Linked DNA regions of Homo sapiens: region 2 is linked to region 1. The links come from fine-mapping of genetic effects on gene expression. Tissue or cell type: blood mononuclear cells. Region 1 holds a variant in brackets; the other region holds the start of a gene. All regions are shown on one strand. Distances are from middle to middle.

Region 1 (8,107 bases):
TAATATTTTTCTGCTCTGATCCTACAGTTTATTCTCAAAGGGCAATCTTATTTCCTCATTCTCAAGTCCTTAGAAGGTACTTCTCCATGATCACCCAAAATGTTAACAAATTATAAGAAGGAAACATCTACCATTGGGTAAAAGCCTGGTGCCAACAGGTAAGTTTCACTCTCTTCTATAACCGAAAATTATAGGTAGCCATTCTAATCCTAGAATTGTCTGAAATTTGTCACAAATGGGTCAAACTGTGATCATGTAGATGGTTGAGTATAAATTTAATACCACTACTCAAAAGATAACTGAACAATTTGCTTTTGAAATTGTCTCTAGGCCGGGAGCGGTGGCTTGCACCTGTAATTCCAGCACTTTGGGAGGCCGAGGCGGGTGGATCACAAGGTTAGGAGATCGAGACCATCCTGGCTAACACAGTGAAACCACGTCTCTACTAAAAACACAAAAAATTAGCCAGGGATGACGGCGGGCGCCTGTACTCCCAGCTACTCGGAAGGCTGAGACAGGAGAATGGCGTGAACCCGGGAGGCGGAGCTTGCAGTGCGCCGAGATCGCACCACTGCCCTCCAGCCTGGGCGACAGAGCGAGACTCTGTCTCAAAAAAAAAAAAAAAAAAGAAAAAGAAAAAGAAATTGTCTCTAGTTAGAGTCAGGGCCGGTCTAAAAAGTAGGAGAAGTGAATACCTTTGCTCATGAAATCACAACATGGTAGCAACAGCTGAAATCCCCATTTTTGCCGAAAAAGAAACTGGGGCCTAGAGAAGTTAAGTGATTTTGCCCAAGGCTGGGGCTCTTAAATGTCAGTGTGTGAGGACTCAAACCTCTTAAACCTCTTAACCAGAGTCTAGGCTTTTTTTTTTTTTTTTTTTTTTTGAGATGTAGTCTCGCACTGTCGCCTGGGCTGGAGTGCAGTGGCATGATCTCAGCTCACTGCAACCTCCGCCTCCCAGGTTCAAGCGATTCTCCTGCCTCAGCCTCCTGAGTAGCTAGGATTATAGTCGCCTGCCACGACGCCCAGCTAATTTTTTGTATTTTTAGTAGAGACGGGGTTTTACTATGTTGGCCAGGCTGGTCTTGAATGCCTGACCTCGTGATCCACCCGCCTCGGCCTCCCAAAGTGCTGGGATTACAGGCGTGAGCCACCGTGCCCAGATGAGTCTAATCTTTTAACCATTACACTATTGATATGATTTAAGAAATATGGGAAATATCCCTGTTGTAAATATACTGTCATGTGTCACTTAACATTGAGAATATGTTCTGAGAAATGCATTGTTAAGCAATTTCATCGTAGTGCAAACATCTTAGACTGCACTTACGCAAACCTAGATGGTATAGCCTACTACACATCCAGGTGATAGGGGATAGACTATCACTCCTAGGTTACAAACCTGTACAGCATGTTACTGTACTGAATACTGTACGCAACTGTAACACAATGGTAAGTATTCGTGTATCTAGATGTATCTAAACACAGAAAAGGTACAATACAAATACAGTATTATAGTCTTATTTTGGGGGGTAGAGGTTGGAGTCTCACTCTGCTGCCCAAGCTGCAGTGCAGTGGCATGATCCCGGCTCACCGCAACCTCCGCCTCCTGAGTTCAAGCAATTCTCCTGCCTCAGCCTCCCGAGTAGCTGGGATTACAAGTGCCCACCACCATGCCTGGCTAATTTTTGTATTTTTAGTAGAGACAGGGTTTCACCATGTTGGCCAGGCTGGTCTCAAACTCCTGACCTCAAGTGATCCACCCACCTTGGCCTCACAAAGGGCTGGGAGTCTTTTCTTTTATTTTGGGCTTTCTGGCAAAAACCAAAAAGCCTGCTTCTAAAAGAGCTGTAACACTGCTATTACAGTCTTATGGAACCACTATTATATTTGGTCTATCATTGATCAAAATGTCATTATGTGACACATAACTGTATTTCCCCATTATCTTTCAGGATGTCTGAAATATTATGATTCATTTGGTCTTGACAGCATGTATTTCTGGGAAAAGTGAAGCCAACTCTTTTCAGAATCTAGGGAGAAAAAATCATTATGTTCTTTCTTTATTTCTGTTACTAACACCTTACTTCAGACCACCATCATTTCTCACCTGGATTATGGCAACAGCCATCCGGCTGGTCTTCATGCTACCTTGGTTGGCTCCTTGCAGTCTGTTCTCCACATTACAGCCAGAATGATCTTCCCAAAATGCAGGTCTGATCATGTCACTCCCCTGCCTGAAAGCTTTCAGGGGCTCCAGATTGTCTTCAGCATGGTCTACACCAGTGTTTCTCACACATTAGGCAAAACCTTATATAACACACAATTTTCATCATTCCCCCACTCTCCTAAAAGTAAATTCATATAGAAATGTGTGGATAGGCCAGGCATTGTGGCTCACACCTGTAATCTTAATTCACTGGGAGGCTGAGACAGGAAGTTTGCTTGAGCCCAAGAGTTCGAGACCAGCCTGGGCAACACAGTGGGACCCTGTCTCTACCAAAAAAAAAAACAAAACACACACAAAAATTAGCTAGGCATGGTGGCACACAACTGGGGTCCCAAGTACTTGGAAGGGTGAGGTCGGAAGATAGCTCATGCCTGGGAGGTCAAGGCTGCAGTGAGCCTTGGTTAGACCACTGTGCTCCAGCCTGGACAACAACGCAAGACCCTGTCTCAAAAAAAAAAAAAAAAATTGCCCACAGGCACGACTGAGGGGCCTAACCACACTCCCACACTCATATCTCTGTGAGCCTCATTAATTTCGCAGACCTCACAAAGCTCAGACTGCTCTGAGCCACCTTTCTTTGTTCACCCTGATTAGTTTGCCTTGGGCTTTAATCCTCATAAACTGCCTAAATACCCAACACTGTACATACAATGGTTTTTGTCAATAGTTTTTGTAGAAGCCACTTTCTCTGCCTGGAACTCTTTCTTTCCAGCTTTATCTGACTAACTCCTTCTCATTCAGGTCCCTCCTTAGAAATGCTTTCCTCGGGCAGTATGGCCATTTTCACAATATTGATTCTTTTTATCCACGAGCATGGAATCTCCTTCCATTTGTTTGTGTTCTCTTTTATTTCATCGAACAGTGGTTTGTAGTTCTCCTTGAAGAGGTCCATCACATCCCTCATAAGTTGGATTCCTAGGTATTTTATTCTCTTTGAAGCAATTGTGAATGGGAGTAATTTATAGATTCAATGCCATCCCCATCAAGCTACCAATGACTTTCTTCACAGAATTGGAAAAAACTACTTTAAAGTTCATATGGAACCAAAAAAGAGCCTGAATTGCCAAGACAATCCTAAGCAAAAGGAACAAAGCTGGAGGCATCAGGCTATCTGACTTCAAAGTATACTACAAAGCTACAGTAACCAAAGCAGCATGGTACTGGTACCAAAACAGAGATATAGACCAATGGAACAGAAAAGAGCCCTCAGAAATAAAACCACACATCTACAACCATCTGATCTTTGACAAACCTGA[T/C]GAAAACAAGACATGGGCGAAGGATTCCCTATTTAACAAATGGTGCTAGGAAAACTGGCTAGCCATAAGTAGAAAGCTGAAACTGGATCCCTTCCTTACACTTTATACAAAAATTAATTCAAGATGGATTAAAGACTTAAATGTTAGACCTAAAACCATAAAACCCTAGAAGAAAACCTAGGCAATACCATTCAGGACATAGGCATGGGCAAGGACTTCATGACTAAAACACCAAAAGCAATGGCAACAAAAGCCAAAATAGACAAATGGGATCTAATTAAACTAAAGAGCTTCTGCACAGCAAAAGAAAATACCATCAGAGTGAACAGGCAACCTACAAAATGGGAGAAAATTTTTGCAATCTACTCATCTGACAAAGGGCTAATATCCAGAATCTACAAAGAACTTAAAGAAATTTACAAGAAAAAATCAAACAACCCCATCAAAAAGTGGGCGAAGGATATGAACAGACACTTCTCAAAAGAAGAAATTTATGCGGCCAAAAGACACATGAAAAAATGCTCATCGTCACTGGCCATCAGATAAATGCAAATCAAAACCACAGTGAGAAACCATCTCACACCAGTTGGAATGGCAATCATTAAAAAGTCAGGAAATAACAGGTGCTGGAGAGGATGTGGAGGAATAGGAACGCTTTTACACTGTTGGTGGGACTGTAAACTAGTTCAACCATTGTGGAAGACAGTGTGGCGATTCCTCAGGGATCTAGAACTAGAAATACCATTTGACCCAACAATCCCATTACTGGGCATATACTCAAAGGACTATAAATCATGCTGCTATAAAGACACATGCACATGTATGTTTATTGCGGCACTATTCACAATAGCAAAGACTTGGAACCAACCCAAATGTCCATCAATGATAGACTGGATTAAGAAAATGTCGCACATATGCACCATGGAATACTATGCAGCCATAAAAAAGGATGAGTTCATGTTCTTTGTAGGGACATGGATGAAGCTGGAAACCATCATTCTGAGCAAACTATCGCAAGGACAGAAAACCAAACACTGCATGTTCTCACTCATAGGTGGGAATTGAACAATGAGAACACTTGCACACAGGGTGGGGAACATTACACACCAGGGCCTGATGTGGGGTGGGGGGAGGGGGAAGGGATAGCATTAGGAGATATACCTAATGTAAATGATGAGTTAATGGGTGCAGCACACCAACATGGCACATGTATACATATGTAACAAACCTGCGCATTGTGCACATGTACCCTAGAACATAAAGTATAATAATAAAAAAAGAAGAAGAAGTGCTTTCCTCCAAGAAGCCTTCCCTGACACCAATGAGACATAACCTGCTGAACTTCCTCTGTTATAGCACATGTCACATTGTGTCTGCGCCCCTTACTGCTTTGGCCACCTCCTCCTAGAGGATGAGTTTCTTGAGGGCATAGAGTATGCTGTGGTCACTGTCACACACACAATGATTGGCACAGATCTGACCTTCATAATGAAAAAGAAAAGGAAGTTGGAGAGCTTCAGTGACTAATTTGGGTGAACTTGTTTATATTTCTACTGAAGGAAACTTTGGGAAAGGAAAACAATAAGGTTAGGAGTACTAAAGGTCAGTTATTATTTTTTAGAGACATTATTTTGCAAATGTATAAAAATGAAAAAAATACACATATTTTGAAAGTATTAAAATGGCCTTTCAGCTGGAACCGCCGTCTTCCAGTAATTCGCCAAAATAACGAACACAAAGGGAGAGAGGAGAGGCGCTGGGTAGATATTCTCTAGGCCGTTTAGAAAACGTGGAGTTGTTCCTTTGGCCATGTATATGCGAATCTGTGGCAGGCCAACTCTCCCTGACAATTGCACAGACGGGGCTGCATGACAGTCACACAGACAGGCCTGCATAGCACTCCAGTTAGACAGACAGGTTTCCATAGCACTGCCTTAACATTGAGCAAATAGTTAAACCTAGGGAAATCAGTGCCCAGACATCAAAGCTAGAAATGAAACATATGGTCAGTAGGAGCCTTGCATGGGCTTCTCCCTAACCTGGAGCAAACCAAAATAATAGAGACAGTCATACATTCCTTGTGCCAGGAGTCGACGAAATCTGAGACGAGTCAAGGTAACAGAGGCAGCTGTTTGAATAGATTCATTGGAGAGTCTAAGGCAGCTCGCCAGGCCAAGCCGTAAAGGAGATAAGATAGAAATAATCACTCCAGTATCACAGTAGACAGGCCTTGAAGGTCCTGGGGCCCCCACAGTTTAATCAGACTTAGCAAGCATTTTTTTGCCTCCGACCTTCTAATTGAAACAAAATTAGCTACCAATAGACTTAGGTGAATATTAGACTGGTCTTGGGCTCATAACCTCAACCTACATAAGCACTAAGAAAATTGTAACACTTTGAATTGGTCTGGTGGAATTATCTCGGGCCTTCTCCCTGTATCTGGTTACAGCAATAAATTCCCTTCTTTCCTAGTTTGTCTGCTTCTCATTATTGGCGGGCCTCGAGAAAACACAGCCGGACCCGGCTTGGTTCTGGGAACAAATCTGTAAGAAAGGTGATATTGTAGACATCAAGGGAGTGGGCACTGTTCAAATAGGAATGCCCCCCAAGTGTCACCATGGCTAAACTGGAAGAGCCTACAATGTTCCCCAGCATGCTGTTGGCATTGTTGTAAACAAACAAGTTAAGGGCAAGATTCCTGCCAAGAGAATTAACGTGGGTATTAAGCACTTTAAGCACTCTACAAGCTAAGAGAATTTCCTGAAACGCATGAAGGAAAATGATCAGAAAAAGAAGGAAGCCAAAGAGAAAGTTACCTGGATTCAACTGAAGCACCAGTCAGCTCCACCCAGAGAAGACAATGTGAGAGAACCAATGGGAAGGAGCCTGAGTTGCTGGAACCACTTCCCTATGAATTCATGCATAATACATATATACACATATATGTGTGTGTACATATACATATATACATATGTGTGTATATATATGTATATATATGACCTCTGGACGGAAAAAAAAAGTAATAAAATGTAAGAAACCTGGTAAATATGACCTCAGGTAGGTCATCAAGGTAAACATCAACAGTGAGAGGTTATGCTGGTAGTATGTACCCTTGATATGTGTGATGAAAATGGTACTCCACCGCTGTAGTTTTTGTAGGAGTGAAGGGAAAACTTCCTCTTCACCCTCTGAAGGTTCACTGAAAAATCAACTGACAAAGGGCAGATTTTTTTTTCTTTTCCTGAGACAGGATTTCCCTCTGTCACCTAGGCTAGAGTACAGTGGTGTCATCATGGCTTACTGCAGCCTCAGCTTTCCAGGCTGAAGCCATGCTCCTACCTCGGCCTCCTGAGTAGCTGGGGACCACAGGCAACACCACCATACCTGGCTAATTTTTAAAATATATATATTTTGTAGAGATGAGGTCTCACTATCTTACCCAAAGTGGTCTCAAACTGCTGAGCTCAATGATCCTCCAGCCACCAGTTCTCAAAATTCTGGGATTACAGAAGTAAACCACTGTGCCGAGCAAGATTAATAGGGGAAATGGTGTGCAAATTTATTAACGTGTGCAGGGAAGAACCACAGAGCGTTTCCCAACTATGCAATGAACTACAGATGGTTATATGCCCTTCTTTTTAGGGGAAAGGGAGATGGGGAAGAGTGGATGATTTTAGGAGAGTAGTAAATGGTATTTAGGGGAATTCAATGGGACCGAAGAACATACAATGGCCTGGGACAAAGTCTATTGGATCTGCTGAGAAAACAATGGTTTGTGACAAAAGTCTGTCCATCCAGGTGTGTTGACAGACTTCAGTCTTTCTTCCTGTGATTTGAGTTCAGTTAATAAAAACTCAGAGAAGGTACCAGAAATAACTATTTTCTTCTTTGGTGGGTCTGGACTTTAAGTAGATGAGGGAACTTCAGAGAACATCATCCCATGTTTACAGAGAGAAAAATAAGATTGAGAGCCAGGAGGCTGAGGGGAATTGCCGGGAAAGTCAGAGAGACCTTGAGGCTTTTTCTTCAATTCAGCATGTCAGAATGCCATATTTTGGAGTATTGGTTTCTGAGTCCCAACATTCTCGTCCCCTTAACCCATAAACCCAGTCTAATAATAAGAAAAACATTAGACAAATTCCAGTTGAAGAACATTCTACAAAATATCTGATGAGTAGTCTTCAAAACTATCAAGGTCATTAAAAACAAAAAAAGTCTGAGAAATTGCCATAGCCAAGAGTAGCCCAAAGAAACATAATGACTAAGGCCAGGCACGGTGGCACATGCTTATAATCCCAGCACTTTGGGAGGCCAAGGTACGCAGATCACCTGAGCTCATGAGTTCGAGACCAGCCTGGTCAACATGGTGAAACCCTATCTCTACTAAAAATACAAAAATTAGCCGGGTGTGGTGGCAGGCACCTGTAACCCCAGCTACTTGGGAGGCTGAGGCAGGAGAATCACTTGAACCCGGGAGGTGGAGGTTGCAGCAGTGAGCTGAGATCGTGACACTGCACTCCAGCCTGGACAACAGTGTGAGACTCTGTCTCAAAAAAAAAAAAAAAAAAAAGAAAGAAAGAAAGAAACATGATGACTAAATATAATCTGATATCCTAGATGG
Region 2 (8,107 bases), 61 kb after region 1:
AGTAAATTCAAGCTTCCAGCCTTACCTGCCAAACAATTCTAACTTTTTAAATCAATTTTCTGAATTCTGAGACTACTCTAAGGCTTCTTCAATTTCCTCAAATCTACCTACCACTTCCCTATAATTCTCATTGTCTTGTTTCATAGGAAAAAATAGAAACTATAGAAAGAACTTCTCCAACTTCCAGTACCAAACATTCCAGCATCTGCACCTATGCTTCCTTCCCTGCTTTCCTCCTCTGACAATGGAAGCACAGTTTGATTTGCTTCTAAAGGTCAATGACTCCACATTCTCTTCCGCTCTTTGTCGTCCTCACCCAATATCTTTAACTTCTCTCTCCACTGGCTCCTTTTCATCCATATTTAAATATATCTAAATATGGCCGGGCTCAGTGGCTCAAGCCTGTAATCCCAACACTTTGGGAGTCCAAGGCGGGCGGATCACGAGGTCAGGAGTTCGAGACCAGCCTGGCCAATATGGTGAAAGCCTGTCTCTACTAAAAATACCGAAAAAAAAAAAATTATCTGGATGTGGTGGTGCGCACCTGTGGTCCCAGCTACTCGAGGCGCTGAGGCAGAAGAATCACTTGAACCCCGGAGGCGGAGATTGCAGTGAGCCGAGATGGATCCATTGCACTCCAGACTGGGCTACAGAGTGAGACTCAAAAAAAAAAAAAAAAAAAAAAATATATACACACACACACACACACACACACACACACACACACACACACACACATATATATATCCCACATTCAAAAATCCCTCCTTTTATTCCAAGTACCTCCTCATTGTCTCGCGCGTCCGTGGGAAGAGACCACCAAACAGGCTTTGTGTGAGCAACATGGCTGTTTATTTCACCTGGGTGCAGGCAGGCTGAGTCTGAAAAAGGAGTCAGCAAAGGGTGTTGGGATTACCATTAGTTCTTATAGGTTTTGGAATAGGTGGTGGAGTTAAGTGCAATGTTTTGGGGGCAGGGGGTGGATCTCACAAAGTACATTCTCAAGGGTGGGGAGAAATACAAAGAACCTTCTTAAGGGTTGGGGAGATTATAAAGAAACTTCCTAAGGGTGGGGGAGATTACAAAGTACATTCATCTGTTAGGGTGGGGCAGAAACAAATCACAATGGTGAAATGTTATCAGTTAAGGCTATTTTCACTTTTTTTGTGGATCTTCAGTTGCTTCAGGCCATCTGGATGTATACATGCAGGTCACTGGGGATATGATGGCTTAGCTTGGGCTCAGAGGCCTGACACTCATCTCTTTCCGGCTCTCCCTACCCCATTATTTTTTAAAAGGTTGTCCATATTTGCTGCCTCTATTTATTCACTTCCCATTTGTCCTTTGTCACCATAATCAGATTTCTATTCTACACTCCAACGACACTGTTCTTATGCGCTTTATCAATAAACTATCCAATAAACCCTTTCAGGTTTCACTTCATTTGACCTGTTAGCTACCTAAGGTAGGATTGTTCGCTTCTCCATGAGACACCCAGTTTCCTAGAACTCCTCCTCTCTCTGCTTTTTGTGAATATTCTTTGTGGCCTACCTTCCTTTTCTCTGTCTGTCCTTAAATGTGGGGCTCCTCAGAGATTTGTGAAGGGCCCTATTTTTTCATACTGTATATTTCCTTCCCTCCTGTCGTCCATCTACACGCTAATCTGCATCTCAGTTTAGATCACCCTCCTGATACATATGTCAACATACCCATCCCATAGGCATTCTGCCTCCCAAGCTGTTTCTGCTGTGTTCTTTATCTCAGTGAAGGACTTCACCTATCTACCCAGCGTCGTCTTGTCTCTTTCCTTTTTAATTTTTCACTTTCAGTCAACTACTAAGCCCAAGCCATTCTGCTGAAGTAGCTCTCAATTTCAACTGACATCCAGGCCATGATTATGTCACACCTTAAAGGGTCCTCCAGTTCCCAATCTTGTCAGTTCCAACCCATTTTCCAGACGAAGCCAGAGTGACTCTTTTTTTTTTTTGAGACGGAGTCTCGCTCTGCCACCCAGGCTGGAGTGCTGTGGCACGATCTCGGCTCACTGCAAGCTCCATCTCCCGGATTCACGCCATTCTCCTGCCTCAGCCTCCCGAGTAGCTGGGACTACAGGCGCCCGCCACCATGCCCGGCTAATTTTTTTGTATTTTTAGTAGAGACGGGGTTTCACCATGTTAGCCAGGATGGTCTCCATCTCCTGACCCCGTGATCCACCCGCCTCGGCCTCCCAAAGTGCTGGGATTACAGGCGTGAGCCACCACGCGCCTGGCCCTTTTATTTTTTGAGACGGAGTTTCGCTCTTGTTGCCCAGGCTGGAGTGCCCTGGCGCGATCTTGGCTCACTGCAACCTCCGCCTTCCGGTTTCAAGCGATTCTCCTGCCTCAGCCTCCCGAGTAGCTGGGATTACAGGCGTCCGCCACCACGCCCGGCTAACTTTTTTGTATTTTTAGTAGAGACGGGGTTTCACCATGTTGGCCAGACTGGTCTCGAACTCCTGACCTCGTGATCCGCCCGCCTCGGCCTCCCAAAGTGCTGGGATTACAGGCGTGAGCCACTGCGCCCGGCCGCCAGAGTAATTCTTAAAAAATGTAAATTATATCATCCCACTGCTATGCTTAAAATCTTTTGGAAGTTTGTCTCTAGGATAAAGCTCTGAATTCCTTAGGATTGCCTTCTCAGTCTCATTTCTCCGTCCCCTCTCTTACGCTATTTTGAACTTTGAATTTTTAGAATACATGCTTGCAGCGTCAAAGCTGTTCTCTCAGCTGAAATACGTGTCCTCCTCCCTCCTTTTTCTAACCAACTTTGCACTCAACCTTCATAGCTTAAATTAAGTATCACTTCTAGGAAAATGACACCCTCTCAAACCCCCTAGTTTCAACTTCTTTGTAGAGTTCCTAAGGATTCTTGTACTTATCTAGCAATTAAGAGCATTATCTTGTAATTCACGTCTTTATCTCTGCTAGACTAAGTCCTTGGGAGGGCGGAAACCAGGTTAAACTTTCTATCTCAATAGCCTAAACTGAGCGCCTTACACACAAAACAGCTGTTCAAATAGCATTTGTTCAGCGAGTAACTATTTTCTTCTTTGGAATGATGGCGGCCAGAATACCAGAAAGATGGGGACTTAAAGGGGACAGAAAAATTAAATCTATAAGGAACAAGCGGGATGGAGTAAATAAATCTATAAGGAGCAAGTGGGTACGTAGGCTTTTCCATAAACCCCTCTAACCCAGAAGCCGGGGCTGCTCGGCTAGGGGGACCAGGCCGACCTGGCTGCCGCCTGTCGTGGCGACTGGGACTCCAGTGGGCTGCCGCTTGGAGTGCGCGACCCCCGGCGAAGCAGGACAATAGCTTGGAATTCGGCCTCGTGTTTCCGGTGAGGCAGCCTCGCGCTGGGCCGGTGAGGCCTGGGGTGGGGGCTCCGAGCCGGGCCCACGGCGAAGAAGGCGCAGCCCGTTGGGCTCCAGCTGCCGCCACCACCGCCTCCCCCGACGCCGTCGCTCCGCCCCGCCCCGCCCCGGAAGTGACTTGAGGCCGGTCCGGAACCTCTGGGCCCGGCGGCTGCAGCGTCACCAGCAGAGCCGGTGCGGGGCGGGCAGAGCGGCCGCTGCCGCCGCCAACGAACTGAGAGCCGCGTGGGGCCCAGCAGCACGCCGGCCAGGGAAGGGGGCCTAGCGATCGGTCCGAGGGCGACGGGCCGCCAGCGGCCGCAGGGCGACGAAGACGCGGAGGAGGCGGAGCCCGGAGAGGGGTGGGGGCCGGGGAGGGTTCGGGTGGGAGGGGGTGGGGGGGGTGTCCCTGGGCTCATGGAGCCGGCCGAGCGGGCGGGAGTCGGAGAGCCCCCGGAGCCGGGCGGGCGTCCCGAGCCGGGCCCGCGGGGCTTCGTCCCGCAGAAGGAGATCGTCTACAACAAGCTGCTGCCCTACGCGGAGCGGCTAGACGCCGAGTCCGACTTGCAGCTGGCCCAGATCAAATGCAACCTGGGCCGGGCCGTGCAGCTCCAAGAGCTGTGGCCCGGGGGCCTCTTCTGGACCAGGAAACTCTCCACGTAAGTGTGCCCGGGCCTGCGGGCCGGGCCGGGGGGAAAGGCTCAGTGAGAGGTGTCGGGGATGGTTGCTCTTTGTCCAGAGGGCTGGACCCTTAGCTCTGTCCTCGCTGGAGCTGTCCCCGAGCGGTGATCCCAGGGTCGTGACAGAGCCTGTGAAGTACTCAAGCCGTCCTCCCTGCCACTTTCCTACGGGACTTCCCGGGTCTTTACCATCCCTCTACGTCCTCCGCATCTGCTTCTCCCGAAGTGTTCGGGTTGTTGTCTTCCCACCTGGGGGGCCCTGGGTAGCCCAAGGGCCCCGGCCCCGAGGGAGAGAGGTGAGCCTTTCTCAAGGGTCCTCCGTGGACTTTTGCGCATGGGAGAGGCGGGGCAAAGAGAATTTGTCTTTGGGGGAGTTCCTTGACTTGTCTCCTTGCTTCCTCCGGTTCTTCCTTCCCCTACGATCCCCGCCTCTTCGCATCTCCGTTGGCGTCTAGTAACTTTCTGAATGGAGAGAAGACCATAGGGAAACTTAAGGGTTTTGCTTTTTGGGGGCCCTCTCAGACCTGGCGGAGTTGATCGAAAAGGGTCGTTTAAAGTCAGACCTCATTCTTGAGCTTAACGTCTTATGTGGACAGTGTTGTTTTGGATTGTGTGTTGCTCCTGTTGTGACATTTCTTTTGGAGAGACATTTAAGATACTGAGGAAAGTAGGGAAGAGCACTGTCAGGATGTCCAGGGCGATATTAGTATCAGGCTTGTGTTAATTTTTTGAGTTACTCAGATTAAGAGATTACCTAAATCAGTTTCAGGAGTTCTGTTTGTAAACTAGCTTCAAACTATAGTGTCACTGAAATTAGGAAAAAAAAAAAAAAAACGAGTGAAAATACAGTGGGGGAAAAAAGGTTACATTTACTTGCTGGATGGGCATCTTTACTGTGTCCGAAGAGCTTTTTAAGAAAGAATTTTGCTGTATCTTGTTTGGTTAACTGTACATAAAATCTAGTAACATGGTATGTTCACGCATGTGGGTATGGACGGGTGAACACACAAGACATAACTCACTCATTCAGTGTTTACCCAAAGCTGCTGATTGAACTGAGTGATGACTCAGGGTTTTGTAATAGTTTTGTGTATATTCACTGGATGATTCTCATCTGCCAATTATTAAGGGGCCTCTGACAAATTTCTCATTTCCACTTGAGGGGTGGGTGGGACCTTTTTAATTAAAAAGAAGCAAAACTAAAACATGTAATTTGCCCTCTTCAGAGAGTGATCATAAAATGTCAAGGTTAACAGCTCTCCCCTTGACTAGAGTATAATGAAGTTTTTCGTGTTAGGATCCTTAGGAGAATGGAGGTGAGGGGCGGCAGAAGCAGGAATGCAACAGGGAGAACCACGTTTAGTCAAAAAAGAATATTTTATAAATAGTTAAAATCCAAATGCTTTTTCAAGTGAGACTCCTAGGTTTTTGTGTTGCTCAGGCACAGTAAAAATAGTCACTTTGTTACAGTAATTCCCCATTTTAATCACTTGGATTAGACTTGCCAGAGAATACCTACCATTTTTGGGGACGCAAACAGCTTTTTTTAGTGTACATTATATAAATATGCCATGGTGTGAAGGCATATCTGCTTTGGATTTATAAACCTAGAATCTACCAAGGCATAGTTAAGCATTGTTTTCTAAAGTATTTATTGTTAACAAGTTTGGTAAATTAGCACTCCGAGTTTTGTTATTGTTTTGGCTTATTAGATAAAAGTTTGTACCTAGAAAGGGCTAAAAATAACAATGGAGCTAATGTTTGGTGTTTAGGGCTGGATTGCAGATAGCTGATGGCTTAATACCCATGAACCCATAACCATTTATAGCTAAATAACCAGCAAGAAATGCTACTGGGTAGAATTTTATTTTGGAATAGTGGTTAGATGCTGGAAACTGATTCTTGATATTGCACTATGAGACATTTTGAATGCGGTGGGACATGTTGTGATCTTGGGTGTGTTTTTTTCCTAAGTCATGTTAAGGTGACCTGTTCATAGTTGTGCTTGTTGTTTTTTAAGCCTTCTGTGTTGCATAAGTGAACATCTGAATAATGCCAAAACGTGTGACGAAAGCTGAGTGGTGATCATATTTAGTACTTTGTAGAATAGAAAGTGGTAATGAAAAGAAAATCTAGTTTCTCCCACTAGCTCTGAGACTGTGGGAAAGTTACTTAATCATGTGTTTCAGTATGCTTGTGCGTGAAATGAGGGGATTGGACTAAATAATTCTTTTTTTTTTTTTTTTTGAGGTGGAGTCTTGCTTTGTTGCCCAGGCTGGAGTGCAGTGGCAGGATCTTGGCCCACTGCAATCCCTGCCTTTCGGGTTCAAGCGATTCTCCTGCCTCAGCCTCCCAAGTAGGTAGGATTATAGGCGAGTGCCACCATGCCTGGCTACTTTTTTTGTATTTTTAGTAGAGACAGGGTTTCACCATGTTGGTCAGGCTGGTCTTGAACTCCTGACCTCAAGCAATCTGCCCACCTCGGCCTCCCAAGGTGCTGGGATTACATGTGTGAGCCACCGCACCCGGCCTGGACTAAATTCTTGAGAAGCATTTCTACTCTGGTATTCTGCAGTTTTATTTTTTTAATCCTGTCAAGCTTCACATCAGTCATTGTGTGTATCTTTCTACAAGAACTGTTTGAATAATTTGTAAAATACTGGAAACAGTTGCATAGATCAAGTACATTCCTAAAGACCAAAGTGTAAATGCAGTTGAGAGTTAGTGGGACTATCTTGCTGATCAGAAATGTGCACCCGTAATCTGGACATCAGAGGTGTGTTTGGGACCAAGTTCTGGTTTGGAAGGTTCTCAGGCTTTACATTTGGTCCCTCTTTTTGACTTTTTTTTTTTTTTTTTTTTTTTTTTTTTTGAGACAATCTCACTCTGTTGCCCAGACACAAGATAGTGTAGTGGCACTATCGTGGCTCACTGCAACCTCCACCTCCACCTCCCTGGTTCAAACGATTCTCCTGCCTCAGCCTCCTGAGTAGCTGGGATTACAGTTGTGCGCTGCCACGCCTGGCTAATTTTTGTATTTTTAGTAGAGACGGGGTTTCACCATTTTGGCAAGGCTGGTCTCGAACCCAGGTGATCTGTGTGCCTCGGCCTCCCAAAGTGCGGGATTACAGGCTGAGCCACCGCCCCAGCCTTCTTTTTGACTTTTTTCTTCATTTTTAGTAGTTCAGTCCATTTAGAAACTTGCAGGTCTGTTTAACATCTCTGAAGAAAGGTTATTTCTATATTTTTAAATACTTGGCCATGTGATAGAGGCTTTCCTGTACAGACAATTTAAAGTACTAGAACTGTCTGGTCAAGAGAGGTTGTGTGATGTAACACATCACAAGGGAAATTTTTAATAAGGGAAGAAACAAATCAGAGAAGTTGAAACAAATTAGAGAAAGTAGGAACAAATTAATGGTCTTTGGACAATGGCAGACAGCTCATGGACACTGTGAGTGAAATATTGGTAGATAACTTGTATGGCCCATGTAGAGAATGAAGGGAGTTGAAGAAAGGTATTCTTAAAACTTGATTTTGTTATGCCTGTAATCCCAGCACTTTGGGAGGCCGAGGCAGACGGATCACGAGGTCAGGAGTTCGAGACCAGCCTGACCAACATGGTGAAACCCCATCTCTACTAAAATTAAGAAAATTAGCCTGGCATGGTGGTGCACGCCTTTAATCCCAGCTACTCAGGAGGCTGAGGCAGGAGAATCGCTTGAATCTGGGAGGTGGAGGTTGCAGTGAGCCAAGCGCCACTCCAGCCTCGGCAAAAGAGCGAGACTCCATCTTAAAAACAACAACAAAGAAAAAAACCCCAAAAAACTTGATTTTGCCCTCTTGCCTTTCTGGACCTTTCATGAGGGGCTGCGGGTGCTCGTTAGAACACCTCAGGTTATCTGTACGTGAGGTGTATCTGGCCTTGCCTCCAACATTATTATCTTTTTTTTTTTTTGGAGACAGAGTAGCTGGGATTATAGGCATGTGCCACGACGCCTGGCTAATTTTTTTGTATTTTTAGTAGAGACAGGG

Evidence for each region. PIP is the estimated chance that this variant, and not a neighbour inherited with it, causes the effect.
Region 2: it holds the start of PSME4, and the variant in region 1 is fine-mapped to the expression of PSME4 in blood mononuclear cells (TOPMed, PIP above 0.99).

The regions. Positions count from the first base shown.
Region 1 is chr2:54,027,787-54,035,893 of GRCh38, reverse strand. It overlaps a transcript of ACYP2 not described here, the pseudogene RPL21P30 and the pseudogene LOC124906138. Among named protein-coding and RNA genes, the nearest start is that of PSME4, 61 kb to the right of the region's middle. The variant T/C (reference allele first, on the strand shown) is at 3,487.
Region 2 is chr2:53,966,487-53,974,593 of GRCh38, reverse strand. It overlaps PSME4 (proteasome activator subunit 4), which reads left to right and starts at 3,601. Exons shown (of 47, transcript NM_014614.3): 1 at 3,601-4,051. The coding sequence starts at 3,810. It also overlaps a transcript of ACYP2 not described here. RefSeq lists enhancers at 3,083-3,132, 3,428-3,722, 3,989-4,753 and silencers at 3,333-3,722, 3,597-3,758, 3,733-3,932.